Regions from separate parts of the Homo sapiens genome. Here region 1 is linked to region 2. The links come from fine-mapping of genetic effects on gene expression. Tissue or cell type: aorta. Region 2 holds a variant in brackets; the other region holds the start of a gene. All regions are shown on one strand. Distances are between the middles of the regions.

Region 1 (8,168 bases), 36 kb before region 2:
GTCTCCCGACCTCGTGATCCGCCCGCCTCAGCCTCCCAAAGTGCTGGGATTACAGAAATGAGCCACCGCGCCCGGCCTAATTTTCATTAGAGTCTTCATCATTGTTATTTTAAAAGGTGAAAAATTAGGCCCAGCCAACATGGCGAAACCCCGTCTCCACTAAACAAACAAAAATTAGCCAGGCATGGTGGCAGGAGCCTGTAATCCCAGCTACTTGGGAGGAGGCTGAGGCAGGAGAATCACTTGAAACCCAGAAGGCGGAGGTTGCAGTGAGCCGAGATAGCACCACTGCACTCCAGCCTGGGCAACAGAGTGAGATTTGGTGTCAAAAAAAAAAAAGTGCAAGATCAGTCTCCTTAGGAAAACTCCCAAGAGGAGTAGGGATGTGTTTTGAGCAAGGACAGAAAGGAGACGCATCCCCAGTGGGTTCCTTCAGGTGGACCCGCCTCCCTGGATGTGAAATTCTGGGGTGCTTGCTGATGGGCGCACGATTACGTCAATGTTTATCACACTTTACAAAAGGACGTGCGTGTGTGTGTGTGAATGAGTGTGCGAGTGTGTGTGAGTGAATGTGTGTGGGGGTGACTGTGTGTGTGTGAGTGAGGGTGTGTGAATGTGTGTGGGGGTGAGTGTGTGAGTGTGTGTGTGAGGGTGTGTGAATGTGTGTGGGGGTGAGTGTGTGGGGGTGATTGTGAGGGTGTGTGAATGTGTGTGGGGTGAGTGTGTGAGTGTGTGAGTGTGTGGGGGGTGAGTGTATGAGTGTGTGTGAGTGTGTGGGGTGACTGAGTGTGAGGGTGTGTGAATGTGTGTGGGGCGAGTGTGTGAGTGTGTGAGTGTGTGTGAATGTGTGTGTGGGGGGGGTGTGTGGGTGAGTGTGTGAGTGTGTGTGAGTGTGTGGGGGTGACTGAGGGTGTGTGAATGTGTGTGGGGGTGAGTGTGTGAGTGTGTGAGTGTGTGAGAGTGTGTGGGGTGAGTGTATGAGAGTGTGAGAGTGTGTGTGTGAGAGAGAGTGTGTGAGAGTGTGTGTGTGTGTGTGTGTGTACACAGATGTCAGGAGGCTACTCTCTCACTCCTGGAGCAGAACTCCTGAACGGGGCCCAGGAAGGCTTCAGTGAGAAGAGGAATTGGCTCAATTGCACCTTCCCTGTCAGCCCCGTAGGGTTTCCTGACACCCAGTGAGACGCCAAGGATGAAAGGGCTGTGGGGCAGAGATATGAGGAGGATGTTTCTCCTTCCCCTGGGCTTCGGCTTGAACTTGCTTATGCTTCTGAGGTTTCTTCCCCGCCCCACCTCACCCCCCAAAGGACCCCTCATGGGCAGGTCCACTCCCCCGCACTGTTCACATCCCTGTCCTCTCTCAGCATCCCTCGCATGTAGGGTGCTCAAAGGTTGGGGTCACCGCCGGGAGCCCAAATCCGCTGCTGCCTCCCTCGGGCTCCCTCCACTCTGGTCATTCCCCTCATCACTACCTGCCACGAGGTGGCGCTGAGACTCCAGCATCCCACACGGGCGGAGCAAACGTGGGTCCCTAATTACCCCCGACCCCAGCCCGCCCAGGCAACCTCGTGCCAGGGACTACTCTGGGGACTTCTTAGTTTTTTCTTTCCTCCTTTTATTCCATCAAGAATTTAACATATAGCCGGGTGCGGTGGCTCACGCCTGTTATCCCTGCACTTTGGGAGGCCGAGGTGGGCAGATCACCTGAGGTCAGGAGTTCAAGACTAGCCTGGCCAACATGGCGAAACCCTGTCTCTACTAAAAATACAAAAATTAGCCGGACGTGGTGGTGGATGCCTGTAATCCCAGCTACTCGGGAGGCTGAGGTAGGAGAATCGCTTGAACCCGGGAGGCAGAGGTTGCAGCAAGCCTAGAGCCAAGATCACAACACTGCACTCCAGCCTGGGCAACAGAGCAAGACTCTATCTCGTGAGCCACCGTGCCCAGCCTGAAACCCCAATTTTTATATGAAATGAATTTTTAAAATCATGTGTTGAGGCCGGGCGCGGTGGCTCATGCCTGTAATCCCAGAACTTTGGGAGGCAGAGGCGGGTGAATCACCTGAGTTCAGGAGTTTGGGACCAGCCTGGCCAACATGGTAAAACCCCATCTCTACTAAAAATACAAAAATTAGCCAGGCGTGGTGGTGCATGCCTGTAATCCCAGATACTCAGGAGGCTGAGGCCGGAGAATCGCTTGAACCTGGGAGGCGGAGGTTGCAGTGAGCCGAGATCGCGCCACTGCACTCCAGCTTGGTGACAGAGCGAGATTCTGTCTCAAAAAAAAATTTTTTTAATTTTCTACTAGGCACATTTTTAGAACGTAAAAATAAGCAGATGAAATCAATAATGTTGATTTTAATAACGTTTTATTTATCCCAATATATCCAAAATATTATCCTTTCAATATACAATCAATAAAAAGTATTAATGAGATATTTTCCATTCTTTTTGTGTTTGGACCCAGTTTTCGATGTCTTGTGTGTATTTTACATCTCAACTTGGATGAGTCACATTTCAAGGGCTCGGAAGCCACATGTGGCTAGGGGCTACCGAATTGGGCTGGGTAGCTGTCGTCCCTCCACCCAGGGGTCAGCTCCAAGGCTGTACCATGGCATTCTGCCCAACTGGATACCGGCTTGGAGCCTAAGGGGTCTCAGGGACCCACCTAGCCACCCTGTGAAGGAGCTTTCCTGTTATACAGGATTATCGTATTTCTGGACGCTCATAAGCAGGGGAGCCCAGCTCGCTCCCAGGCCCCACACCTGGCCTCCCTGAGGACTGAGAGGAGGACGAGGCGGCTCCCCAAGGTCTTCATTTTGCAAATAACAATGGGTTTCCTTTATTGAGCACAATTCTCTCTCTCTCTCTCTTTTATTTTTTTGAGAGGAGTCTCACTCTGTCACCCAGGCTGGAGTGTAGTGGCATGATCTCCACTCACTGCAACCTCTGCCTCCCGGGTTCAAGCAATTCTCCTGCCTCAGCCTCCTGAGTAGCTGGGATTACAGGCATGTGCCACCACACCCAGCTAATTTTTGTATTTCTAGTAGAGACGGGGTTTCACCACATTGGTCAGGATGGTCTCAATCTCCTGACCTCGTGATCTGCCCACCTTGGCCTCCCAAAGTGCTGGGATTACAGGCGTGAGCCACCATGCCCAGCCTGAGCAAAATTCTTAATTTAATATAGTCAAATTTATGAAACCTGCAAAGTTCTCCCAAAGCCACAAACATTGTTTTTTATTTGTTTGTTTGTTTGTTTGTTTTTAGTTGGAGTCTCATTCTGTCACCCAGGCTGGAGTGCAGTGGTGCAACCTTGGCTCACTGCAACGTTCGCTTCTTCCCAGGTTCAAGTGATTCTCCTGCCTCAGTCTCCAAAGTAGCTGTGGTTACAGGCACCCACCACCACGCTAATTTTTGTATTTTTAGTAGAGACAGGGTTTTGCCATGATGGCCAGGCTGGTCTCGAACTGCTGACCTCAAGTGATCCACCTGCCTCAGCCTCCCAAAGTGCTGGGATTACAGGCATGAGTCACCGTGCCCGGCTGAGTTTTCAAATCTTATTCATTTCCAGGTGTCCTTTCAGCCCCATATCTCCCACTGAGCTGTGCGGCAGGATCTCGGCTCACTGCAGCCTGGACCTCCCAGGCTCAAGCGATTCTCCTCCCTCAGCCTCCCAAGTAGCTGGGATTACAGGCATGTACCACCACGCCCATATATTTTTTGTATTTTTTGTAGAGATGGGATTTTGCCATGTTGCCCAGGCTGGTGTCAAACTCCTGGGCTAAAGCAGTCCTTCTGCCTCGGCCTCCCGAAGTGCTGGGTTTATGGGCATGAGCCATGGCATCCCGCCTGATCGTAGGATTTTAAACTATTTCATACAACCACTTTCAAACCACACACACACATCCGTGGCGGCTCCAGATCACACTTGTAAAACAATGTAAGGAGGGGCGTCAGGAATATAGAAAGAGATGCCGAGGATAGAGAAGAAGGCAGAGACAGAGGGAGAAAACCTAAGAGAGAACAAAGGAGGAGAATCCGATAGGACAAACAGCCTGAGGCCCTTCCGAGCTGGCATCTGCCCGGAGCAGCTGACCTAGGGGCTCTCTGCCACCGGCTCTTTAGCACCCCAGAATCGTTCTGATGGGCATGAGGTGGACCCAACACTCCCCCTTATCCTCTTCCCCACCTGGTGGTGAGCTACGTAGAAACCTACTCATGGGGCCCTGCTGGTCCATGCAGGGTCCAGGCAGGATCCAGGGGCTACCCTGGTGCTCACATCTCCCCTTCCCTTCTGGAGTCGGGAGCCAGGCTTTGGCCTGGATGCTCCCAGCGGTTGGGGGTCAGGGTCTGGGTGGGATGTAATAGGGGGCCCTAAGGTCCAGCATTTCCCAACAGAAAGAAAGAAGTACACGCTTGCTTTGGAAGAAGCAGCGGAGGGCTCAGTTCCCAGGACAGCTGAAGACACATCCCTGTGGGGCCCAAAGTGTCTTTCTCCCCATCCAGAGACCCTGCCCAGAGGAGCAGGCCCTGGAGCTGCAACAGAAACCGGAGGCTGGCCCAAGTCCCTCTGGGCTGGGCTGGGCTGGGCTGGGCAGAGCTGGGCTGGGCTGGGCTGGGCTGGGGCAGAGGCAAAATCCTGCCAGGGTGGTTCTCTGGGGAGAGGGGAATTGAAAAGGAAAAGCATCACCAAGGAGGGGGAGAGGGAGGGAGGCCGTGTGCGCACACGCACACACACACACACACACACACACACACACACACAGCCTCCCTGACTGAGCCTGAGCCTCCCTGGGAAGAGGCGCATTCTTCTCTCTGCTCTCTGAGCTTTCCGTTGCTTCCCTGCCCATCTGTGCTCTCAGCAGCACCAGCAAAGTTGGCCTCAAACTTGAACAAAGCTGCAGGCTCCAGCGTCTTTCTGGGAGCTCCGCGGGGGCAGCAGGCAGGCCCCAGCCTCTGAACTCAGCTGGCTTGAGAAGCTCAGCCCAACCCTTCCAGCACCCAGCCGGCCCTCCGTCTCCTGAGGGACGCCCCTGCCCCCGACCTGGAGGCCCTCAGTCTGGGCTGGGGAATGGCGCGCTGAGGTCCCTCCAGAGCCCCTTGTCCCAGCCTGGAGCTGCAGCCGCGCAAGGCCCAGGCCCCCATGGCCCACCCGGTGCAGTCCGAGTTTCCTTCAGCACAGGAGCCAGGCTCCGCCGCATTCCTGGACCTGCCGGAGATGGAGATACTCCTCACCAAGGCAGAGAACAAGGATGACAAGACCCTGAATCTGTCCAAGACCCTCTCGGGGCCTCTGGATCTGGAGCAGAACAGCCAGGGCCTACCCTTCAAGGCCATCTCCGAGGGGCACCTGGAGGCCCCACTGCCTCGGTCCCCCTCCCGGGCCAGCTCAAGGAGGGCGTCCTCCATCGCCACCACCTCCTATGCCCAAGACCAAGAAGCCCCCAGAGATTACCTCATCCTGGCCGTCGTCGCCTGCTTCTGCCCCGTCTGGCCCCTCAACCTCATCCCCCTCATCATTTCCATCATGGTAAGTGCTGGTCTTTGTTCCAGGGGCAGGGGCTGGGCCCAGGGGTCGGCAGGTGTTTCCCCCAGGCAGGCACCAAACACTGCCCAGGGTGTGGAGAAGAGAGAGCTGGGAGTGGGGGGCTTGGGGAAGACTCCTTTCCTCACTGGCCTCCTCCTTCCTCTTAGAGAGGGGCCCCGGGGCTGGAAGAGCTCCTGCTCTGTTCTCTCATCTCTGCTTCTGGGCATCAGAGCTCGACTTTGCACCTGTGTCTGCTGGGGAGGGGCCCTCAGGGAGCTGCCTGGCGATACATCCCGCGGGGCAGAAAGATAGCCAGGCTGGGGGTCTTGCTGTTTTAGGAGGGACGGGCGGTCCCAAAGGGTCATCGCCAAGTGGGGCTGTCTCAGCAGAGGTTGCACCGGACGGGGGTCCCAGCGCCCATGTGTCCTCCCAGGCCACCTGGACATGCTCCCAGCCTCTGCCGGCTCCGGTTTCCAAGAGTCGCAGCGGCTTCCCTGCCGTACCCTGAGGGCTCCGGGGCCAGGCTCCCCCGAGGGGCGCACAAAGCGGGGAGAGCTGGCAGACTGCTCCTCCCGAGGCGTGGAGTTCCCTCCGGAGCCCTCTGCAGCTCCACAGCTACGCTGACTTCAGCCTCGTCTTCAGGGCAGGGGAGGTCTGGGTCACAAGTGAAAAATGTGAGAGTCAGAGGGCATGGCCTGCCATGCCCAGGAAGGGGCATGGGGCCGGGTCTGTACTTCCATGGGATTTTGAATGAATTGTCTTAGATTGTCTCCAACCCAAGCCCTTTGGGTAGAGCTACTTATAAAGGATTCCATAGAAAATGTCAGCAGATATTGGCAAGTGACTTTTGAAGTCCAGGAAGAAGCGAGAGTTATGAAAGGGTGGGGAGAGGGAGAAGCAGGGCTCAGCAATGATTTCAGAGTGAGGTCAGGGGCAGGGGGTAGAAAACTGCTGGCCCAGGCTGGTCAGGGCCAGAGGACTAGGTGTGGAGGGGGGTTCCCAAGAGTGACTCCCTGCAGAGTCACCATCACCGAACCCCCAGGAGCTGTCCTCTGAGAAAGCTCCTATTTCTTCAAACCACTCTGTCTACCTCAGGGAGGCCCAGTCTCCCAGCAGGGAAGCCTTCCCCATCCCACCAAAGCCAGTACTACCTTTCAGGACATCAGGGGGCACTGGCAGCCTTCCTGAGTCTGAGGGACTTGGCATGGGCTGTGGAAGCAGGGCCGGGCAGGGGCCTTCCGGGCAGCTCTCTGTGATGCCTGCTGTACCTGGGGACCGCTTGCAGGTAAAGCCAGGACCCAGGGGTGCAGCCAGTGGCTGTGGGCAGGGCCTGCCTCTTGGTTACAGGGAAAGGCCCCAGGAGGGGAAACTGGATTTGGGGAGGGAAGCTACCCAAGGGCTCAGGAGAAAACAGCTGCTGGAATCCATCTCCTGGTGGGGTGGCAGGGTGCAGGCTGGGCAGGACCTGCCTCTGACAAACAGAGCCTAAGCCCAAGGCAATGAGACCACAGAACCTGCCCCAGTGAGTTTCTATATATACATATACATACATGTACATATATGCACATACATGTACATATATGCACACGTGTACATATATGTACATATATACAGATATACACATATGTACATATACATATGTACATATATACACACATATGTACACATATGTACATGTATACACATATATACATATATGTACATATATACGTATATGTGTACACATAAATGCACATATGTACATATACACGCATATATGTACGTATACACGTGCATATATGTACGTATACACGTGCGTATATGTACGTGTACACGTGCGTATATGTACGTATACACGTGCGTATATGTACGTATATGCACGTATATGTACGTATATGTACATATATGCACGTATATGTACATATATGTACGTATATGTACATATGCGTATATATGTACATATATGTACGTATATGTACATATGCGTATATATGTATATATGTACGTATATGTATATATATTTTAAGACAGAGTCTTGCTCTGTCACCCAGGCTGGAGTGCAATGGTGCGATCTCGGCTCACTGCAACCTCTGCCTCCCAGGTTCAAGCAGTTCTCTTGCCTCAGCCTCCTGAGTAGCTGGGATTACAGGAGCCCACCACCACACCTGGCTAATTTTTGTATTTTTAGTAGAGACGGGGTTTTACCATGTTGGCCAGGCTGGTCTTGAACTCCCGACCTCGTGATCCACCCACCTCGGCCTCCGAAAGGGCTGGGATTACAGGTGTGAGCCACTGAACCTGGCCTGTTTCTATATTCTTTAAAGGTTTTGTTTTGTTTTATTTGAAACGGAGCCTCGCTCTGTCGCCCAGGCTGGAGTGCAATGGTGCGATCTTGGCTCACTGCAAACTCCGTCTCCCAGGTTCATGCAATTCTCCTGCCTCAGCCTCCCAAGTAGCTGGCATTACAGGCGCTGGCCACCATGCCTGGCTAATTTTTGTATTTTTAGTAGAGACGGGGTTTCTCCATGTTGGTCAGGCTGGTCTCAAACTCCTGATCTCAGGTGATCCTCCCACCTCGGCCGCCCAAAGTGCTGGGATTACAGGCAAGTGCCCACCACACTCGGCCCCTTTTACGTTTTTGAGTCAGGTGTGATGAATACCAGG
Region 2 (8,191 bases):
AAACGGAATGACATCGAGCTACACGCTGTCATCAGACAGATCAGGAAAACGGAATGACATCGAGCTACACGCTGTCATCAGACAGATCAGGAAAACGGAATGACATCGAGCTACACGCTGTCATCAGACAGATCAGGAAAACGGAATGACATCGAGCTACACGCTGTCATCAGACAGATCAGGAAAACGGAATGACATCGAGCTACACGCTGTCATCAGACAGATCAGGAAAACGGAATGACATCGAGCTACACGCTGTCATCAGACAGATCAGGAAAACGGAATGACATCGAGCTACACGCTGTCATCAGACAGATCAGGAAAACGGAATGACATCGAGCTACACGCTGTCATCAGACAGATCAGGAAAACGGAATGACATCGAGCTACACGCTGTCATCAGACAGATCAGGAAAACGGAATGACATCGAGCTACACGCTGTCATCAGACAGTCAGGAAAACCGTGAATTACGTCGAGCTAAACGGAGCATGACAGTAAGATTTCTCAGAGACCTTCATACACCCACGTGCACCATGTACCTCCAAGAAAGGGTGGATTATGCAGTATTTCCTAAATTCGATGGGTTGCCAAGCCCCTTCTTTGAGAAATATTTTCTTGTAAAGCTAAGTTTTAGATTTGCAAACCCAAGTATTTCCGTTATTAAAAACTCTGTATACAAAAAATTATCTGTAAACATCCTTTTAAGACGGCTGGATAATGCATATACATGATAACTTATTTATTTACTTATCCTTTCTCCCATTGTGAGGCATTAAGGTGTCCAGTTTCTCTCTCTCCCATTTTTTTCCTGCCTATAATTTTTGATGTTGTTGTTTTGAGATAGAGTTTCACCCTTGCCCAGGCTGGAGTGCAATGGCGAGATCTTGGCTCACCATAGCCTCCGCCTCCCGGGTTCGAGCGATTCTCCTGCCTCAGCCTCCCAAGTAGGTGGGACTACAGGCATGCACCACCACGCCCGGCTAATTTTTGTATTTTTAGTAGAGACGGGGTTTCACCACGTTGTCCAGGCTGGTCTTGAACTCCTGACCTCAGATGGTCCGCCCGCCTCGGCCTCCCAAAGTGCTGGGATTACAGGCGTGAGCCACTGTGCCCGCTCCCTACCTATAATTTAAACACAGGGTTTAGGCACTGGGGGAGTGAATTCTGAAGGTGCTTCAAAAGCAGCCCTTGCTGTGGAGGCCCCACTGGGTCCACCCACTCCTGAGCCAGGGAGAAGAAGGCAGCCTGGGCTTTGCCTCCTCACTGGGTCAGCTGACTGGGTCGCCATGGCAACCACACAGGCCTGGAAGAGGGAGGGTGCTCCTGGGATGGGGCTAGACGTGGAAGCCCCAGGGCCAGGTGGCTGGGAGCCTGGGACACTGGGGCTGACCAGACCAGATGGCTGGGGGACCCCCTGGGAATGGGGGGCTAAACTGCCTTTGGAAAGTGCCAGATGAACACAGGTCTCAGCCAGAAGCCTCAGACAGAGCCCCTTTCCTTCGTGGTAAGCCATTTGGAGGACCGGTGGCTGTAGCGAGATATCCGGTGAAGAGGCACCACGGATGCTGGAAAATCTGGGTAATGGGATTGAACCTGGATCTAATAATAAGCAAGTGTGATTTGCTCTCACCTGTAAAACCAGACCCCCACAGTCTTCCCAGAACTCATCCATCTGTTGGGGGCTTTGGGAAGTCCCAGCCTCCAATCTGCTCTCTGCCCCAGTAGGAATGCTCTCACCTCCCCAGTGGGAATGCTCTCACCTCCCCAGTGGGAATGCTCTCACCTCGCCAGTGGGAATGCTCTCCCCTCCCCAGTGGGAATGCTCTCACCTCCCCAGTGGGAATGTTCACCTCCCTAGTGGGAATGCTCCCTCCCCAGTGGGAATGCTCTCACCTCTCCAGTGGGAATGCTCTCACCTCTCCAGTGGGAATGCTCTCACCTCCCCAGTGGGAATGTTCCCCTCCCCAGTGGGAATGCTCTCACCTCCCCAGTGGGAATGTTCCCCTCCCCAGTGGGAATGCTCTCACCTCCCCAGTGGGAATGTTCTCACCTCCCCAGTGGGAATGTTCTCACCTCCCCAGTGGGAATGTTCACCTCCCCAGTGGGAATGTTCTCACCTCCCCAGTGGGAATGTTCTCACCTCCCCAGTGGGAATGTTCACCTCCCTAGTGGGAATGCTCCCTCCCCAGTGGGAATGTTCCCCTCCCCAGTGGGAATGCTCTCACCTCCCCAGTGGGAATGTTCTCACCTCCCCAGTGGGAATGTTCACCTCCCCAGTGGGAATGCTCTCACCTCCCCAGTGGGAATGTTCTCATCTCCCCAGTGGGAATGCTCTCACCTCCGCAGTGGGAATGTTCCCTAGTGCAAAGGGCAGATTGGAGGCTGGGTCGCCAGAAGCAGATGAGCCCTCGTTCCTGCCTTCGTATGTGCTGGTGTTTTCAAAGTTTCCCCACTTGTTTTTCACTGGATAGAGGCTTTTCTTCCACAAATTTCTCAATTTGGTTTGAATTTTATGTTCCTCAAGGAAGTGGCAAGAGGGTGCCCTTGTACACAGTTGACTGTCAGGGGAAGGTGTTTCTGGGTGAGAGGAGAGCCTGGTCTTCTTGGGACATTTCCAGGAATGCAGGAGCAAGACTATGGTGCAAGGACCAGGTCCCAGAGGCCCCTGTCTGATGTTGCAACGCTTGCCCTGACTCTCTAGGGCAACCATCATCCGCAAGAACTTTCTGTGCTCCCTGGCCCATGTCAGATTCACTTTGTTTTTTTTTTCCTTCCTCCAAGATGGAGTCTAGCTCTGTTGCCTACGCTGGGGTGCAGTGGTGCGATCTTGGCTCATTGCAACCTCCGCCTCCCGGGTTCAAGCAATTCTCCTGCCTCAGCCTCCTGAGTAGCTGGGATAACAGGCATCTTCCACCACGCCCGGCTAATTTTTGTATTTTTAGTAGAGACGGGGTTTCACCATGTTGGCCAGGATGGTCTCGAACTCCTGACCTCATGGTCTGCCCACCTCGGCCTCCCAAAGTGCTGGGATTACAGGCATGAGCTACCGTGCCCGGCCGAGGTTCACTCTTTAAACTTATTTAAAACAAAACATTATGCTTGCCCTGACTCTCTCGGGCAACCATCCTCCGCAAGAATTTTCTGTGCTCCCCAGCCCATGTGAGATTCACTCTTTTTTTTTTTTTTTTTTTTTTGAGATGGAGTCTCGCTCTGTCACCCAGGCTGGAGTGCAGTGGCACGATCTTGGCTCACTGCAAACTCCGCCTCCCGGGTTCATGCCATTCTCCTGCCTCAGCCTCCCGAATAGCTGGGACTACAGGCACCCACCACTATGCTCGGCTAATTTTTTGTATTTTTAGTAGAGACGGGGTTTCACTGTGTTAGCCAGGATGGTCTGATCTCCTGATGTCGTGATCCACCAGCCTCAGCCTCCCAAAGTGCTGGATACAGGCGTGAAGAGATTCACTCTTTAAACTTATTTAAAACAAAACAGAAACCCCATCTAAGTTCTCTGCACCAAACTGATACCAGCCGTCGCTCATGGCTGGGGGAGTCGCTATGGGACTGGAGGTGAGAAAGGCAGTCTCCAGTTTTTATCCCATATACCTTGTTTCGTTGGAACCTTACACCAAGCATTTATAGATGTATTACCTTTATCATTTATAATTTAATTGAAAAAATAGGAATGTCTGAGGGAGAACAGATGATTCCCTGTAATCCATTAGCTGAAGCAATCAATGTGAAGAGCTGAACATTTTTCTTCCGGGCTTTTAAAAAGAAATTTGTGACATACAGCTATAGTCGCTTTATAATAAAAGGGCTCTAGTAAGTGGCCTTTGCATGGTAGCTGGACTTCGAGGGGCTTTTAAGTAGCAGATCCCTTCTATCTCCCACAAACCTGCCTCCTTAAGATGCATCAGCCTCACCTGACTGAAATGACACCAAAACACCAGGCGGCCTGAGCTGCTGGAGGGGCTGGAAGCCCTGAGAAGCTCCCTCTCCCCGGCCGGGCACGGTGGCTCACGCCTGTAATCCCAGCACTTTGAGAGGCCGAGGCGGG[C/A]GGATCATGAGGTCAAGAAATCAAGACCATCCTGGCCAACATGGTGAAACCCCGTCTCTACTAAAAATATAAATATTAGCTGGGTGTGGTGGCACACGCCTGTAGTCCCAGCTATTCGGGAGGCTGAGACAGGGGGATCGCTTGAACCCGGGAGGTGGAGGTTGCAGTGAGCCGAGATCGCGCCATTGCACTCCAGCCTGGTGACAGAGTGAGACTCCATCTCAAAAAAAAAAAGCTTCCTCTCCCTCCAGGACAGAGCTCTCCAGAAAAGCCTCTCCCCCGCTGCCCTCCCCAGGCTCCCGTCTTCCTGACCTTTGCTTTGGATCTGGTTCTTGCTCTTGGCCCTCGCCCTGGAGCTGGATGCTTTGGTCGGGCTCTTGCCTCCAGCGTCTCCTTTGCTATCAGCCTGCCCTCCCATTGCCCCAGTTGGAGGCAGGGCTGCCAGCTCCAGCCTGGCCAGTGGGGAAAATGGATGCGTCTACCTCCTGGTTCCCTGCTGAGGTCAGAGGCCCTTTCCGACCTCCTAAGCCACTCAGGGGGCCCGTGGCTGTACAGGATATCCAGTGAACAGGCACCACGGATGCTGGAAAATCCAGGTAATGGGATTGAACCCGGATCTAAGAACGGGCCAGTGTGATTTGCTCTCACCCTTAAAACCAGACCCCACAGTCTTCCCAGAACTCATCCACCTGTTGGGTCTTTGGGAAGTCCCAGGGCACTGAGGTCTCAGGGTACAGAGGTCCCAGGCTTGGCTCCCTCTGGTTGTTAGCCCGTGCAGACATTCCAGGGTCTACAGACGCTCCCTGGAGAGGGGAACACGAGGTTCCAGGCAGGGCCCGGCTGCCCTCCCAGGGGAACCGAGCTGGAGGAACTCATGTTTTCATCATGGCCCGTGGGAGCCACTCATGGGCTGCTTAAACAGGCAGGAGGTAAACACACACCCCAGGCGACCAAGATCAGCGGCTCCCTGCACAGCGGGTTTAATTATAAGAGCAACATAATAGCGACAGGACAGAAAGGGGGGGAAATGGCAGGGAAAACCTCTCACCAGCCCACAGCCTCCACATTCCCACTGCCTGGCTGTGAACCTTCTCCCTCCTGGGTGACTTTGCCCAGGGGTGTGGAGTGGGTTTTTTCCTTTCTTAATTTCATTCCAATTGCAAAATTAATACAACGTCATTGCAGCAAACTTGGAAAATGCGAAAAGCCTGAAGAAGAAAACAACAATTTCTCTAAGTGGGTTTTTTTTTTTTTTTTGAGACGGAGTCTGGCTCTGTCACCCAGGCTGGAGCGCAGTGGCGCGATCCTGGCTCACTGCAACCTCCACCTCCCGGGTTCAAGTGATTCTCCTGCCTTAGCCTCCCAAGTAGCTGGAATTACAGGCACTCACCACTGGGCCCGGCTAATGTTTATATTTTTAGTAGAGATGGGGTTTCACCATGTTGGCCAGGCTGGTCTCGAACTCCTGGCCTCAAGTGATCCACCCTCCTCGGCCTCCCAAAGTGCTGGGATTACAGGCGTGAGCCGCCGCGCCCGGCCCCTGGGGTTGGTTTGTGCAGAAGCGAGAACCTGCTCAGGAGCTTGCAGCTGGTAAGAGTGGAATTAGAATGGGAACCAGATATAATAATAAAAGCTTCATCTTTTAGAAAAAGATCAAATCAGAAATATGGGTTACATTTGTAAAAGGCTTTCAATTAAAAAGAGGCTGTGAAGCACATCTTGGGAGGCCTAAAAGTCCTTTTCATTTGGATATTGTTTTATCAAAAGCCCTAGTTTGTGCTGATAAGAAAATGGATTTCACAAGATTGAATCTAACAAAAAGCTTTGGCTAGCTGATTAATTAGGTGAGTCACAGGTCTCCTGGGAGTTCAAAGTCAGGAGTTTAAAGACCCTATGAAAACACATAGGAAGCCGGGCTTGGTGGCTCATGCCTGTAATCCCAACACTTTGGGAGGCCAAAAAGGGTGGATCATGAGGTCAGGAGTTCGAGACCACCCTGGCCAACATAGTGAAACCCTGTCTCTACTAAAAATATAAAATTAGCCAGGCATGGTGGTGGGCACCTGTAATTCCAGTTACTCAGGAGGCTGAGGCAGGAAAATCGCTGGAACCCGGGAGGCGGAGGTTGCAATGAGCCGAGATCGCCCCACTGCACTCCAGCCTGGGCAAAAAGAGTGAAACTCCATTAAAAAAAAAAGAAAGAAAGAAAGAAAAAAGAAAAATGTAGTAATAGTTCACCAATCTCTCCATCACTTCAGATAAACTGGGCCAGGCACAGTGGCTCACACCTGTAATCCCAGAACTTTGGGAGGCCGAGGCAGGAGGATCACTTGAGCCTCAGAGTTTGAGACCAGCCTGGGGAACCCAGGGAGATCCCTTCTCTACAAAAAAATGCAAAAAAATATGAGCCAAGCATAGTGGTGCATACCGTAGTCCCAGCTACTTAGGAGTCTGAGGAGGGAGATTCATTTGAGTCCAGGAGTTGGAGGCTGCAGTGAGCCGTGATTGCGCCACTGCACTCCAGCCTGGGTGACAGAGCAAGACCCTGTCTCAAAAAATACATAAAAACATTAAAAGAATAAAAAATAAAGTTCAGACAGGCTAGGCACAGATGAATTAAATCCACAGTAAGTACTGTATTTTTATTTTCACCAAAAATGTCAATCTTATCCTCAGTGCTAATTTTCTGGGGGAAAACCACGAGCTACGCTGTTCTACTCTCAGAAGCTCCATTTTGCTCACATTCAGCTCTTTCTCTTTTTTTTTTTTTTTTTTTTTTGAGACAGATTCTCACTCTGTTGCCCAGGCTGCAGTGCAGTGGCGCGATCACTGCTCACTGCAACCTCCGCCTCCCGGGTTCAAGCGATTCTCCTGTCTCAGCCTCCCAAGTAGCTGGGATTACAGGTGCCCACCACCACACCCAGCTAATTTTTGTATTTTTAGTAGAGACAGGGTTTCACCATATTGTACAAGCTGGTCTCGAACTCCTCTTGACCTCAGGTGATCCACCTCCCTTGGCCTCCCAAAGTGCTGGGATTACAGGCATGAGCCACTGCGCCTGGCCTCAGCTCACATTTATTGAACATCTACTATGTGCCACTTACTTTCACATACATTTCATTTGACCCATGACAACCTATTTTATTTATGTATTTATTTATTGAAATGGAGTTTCGCTTTTCTTGGCCAGGCTGGAGTGCCACGGGTCGATCTAGGCTCACTGCAACCCCCACCTCCCAGAGTCAAGTGATTCTCCTGCCTCAGCCTCCCAAGTAGCTGGGATTACAGGCATGAGCCACCACGCCCCGCTAATTTCTTGTATTTTTAGTATAGACGGGGTTTCGCCAGGTTGGTCAGGCTGGTCTCGAACTCCCGACCTCAGCTGATTGGCCCGCCTCGGCCTCCCAAAGTGCTGGGATTATAGGCATGAGCCGCCTCGCCCAGCCCACCTTTTGGCTATTGTAAATATAATACTGCTGTGAACATGGGCTTGCAAAGATCTTTTTGAGATCCCGCTTTCAATTCTTCTGGGCATATACCCAGAAGCGGAACTGCTGGATCACATGGTAATTCTATTTTTAACTTTTTGAGGACTTGCCTTACTGTTTTCCATAGTGACTGCACTATTGTGCATTCCAACCGACGGTGCACAGGGGTTCTAGTGCCTCAGCATCCTCACCAGCACTTATTTATTTATTTATTTATTTATTTATTTATTTATTTATTTATTGAGATGGAGTCCCACTCTGTCGCCCAGGCTGGAGTGCAGTGGTGCAATCTCAGCTCACTGCAACCTCCTCCTCCCCAGATTCAAGTGATTCCCCTGCCTCAGCCTCCCGAGTAGTTGGCATTACAGCCGTCCGCCACGACGCCTGGCTGATTTTTGTACCTTTAGTAGAGACGGGGTCTCACCATGTTGGCCAGGCTGGTCTTGAACTCCTGACCTCTAGTGATCCGCCTGCTTTGGCCTCCCAAAGTGCTGGGATTATAGGCGTGAGCCACCGCGCCCAGCCAATACTTTTTTTTTTTGGAGACACGATCTTGCTCTGTTTCTTGGGCTGGAGGGCAGTGGCGTGATCACGGGTCACTGCAGCCTCGACCTCCTGGGCTCAAGCAATCCTCCCACCTC

Alleles and levels. Alleles are on the strand shown, and positions count from the first base shown. SD is a standard deviation of normalised expression in the study named.
In carriers of allele C in region 2, the expression in aorta of the gene that starts at base 4,802 in region 1 tends to be lower than with A alone (moderate effect, 0.57 SD a copy in GTEx).

Evidence for each region. PIP is the estimated chance that this variant, and not a neighbour inherited with it, causes the effect.
Region 1: TRARG1 starts here. The variant in region 2 is fine-mapped to the expression of TRARG1 in aorta (GTEx, PIP above 0.99). The same link has a PIP of 0.9 or more in tibial artery.

What each region holds. Positions count from the first base shown.
Region 1 is chr17:1,274,861-1,283,028 of GRCh38, forward strand. It overlaps TRARG1 (trafficking regulator of GLUT4 (SLC2A4) 1 (gene/pseudogene)), which reads left to right and starts at 4,802. Exons shown (of 3, transcript NM_172367.3): 1 at 4,802-5,528. The coding sequence starts at 5,142.
Region 2 is chr17:1,311,173-1,319,363 of GRCh38, forward strand. No RefSeq gene overlaps it. Among named protein-coding and RNA genes, the nearest start is that of TRARG1, 36 kb to the left of the region's middle. The variant C/A (reference allele first, on the strand shown) is at 4,063.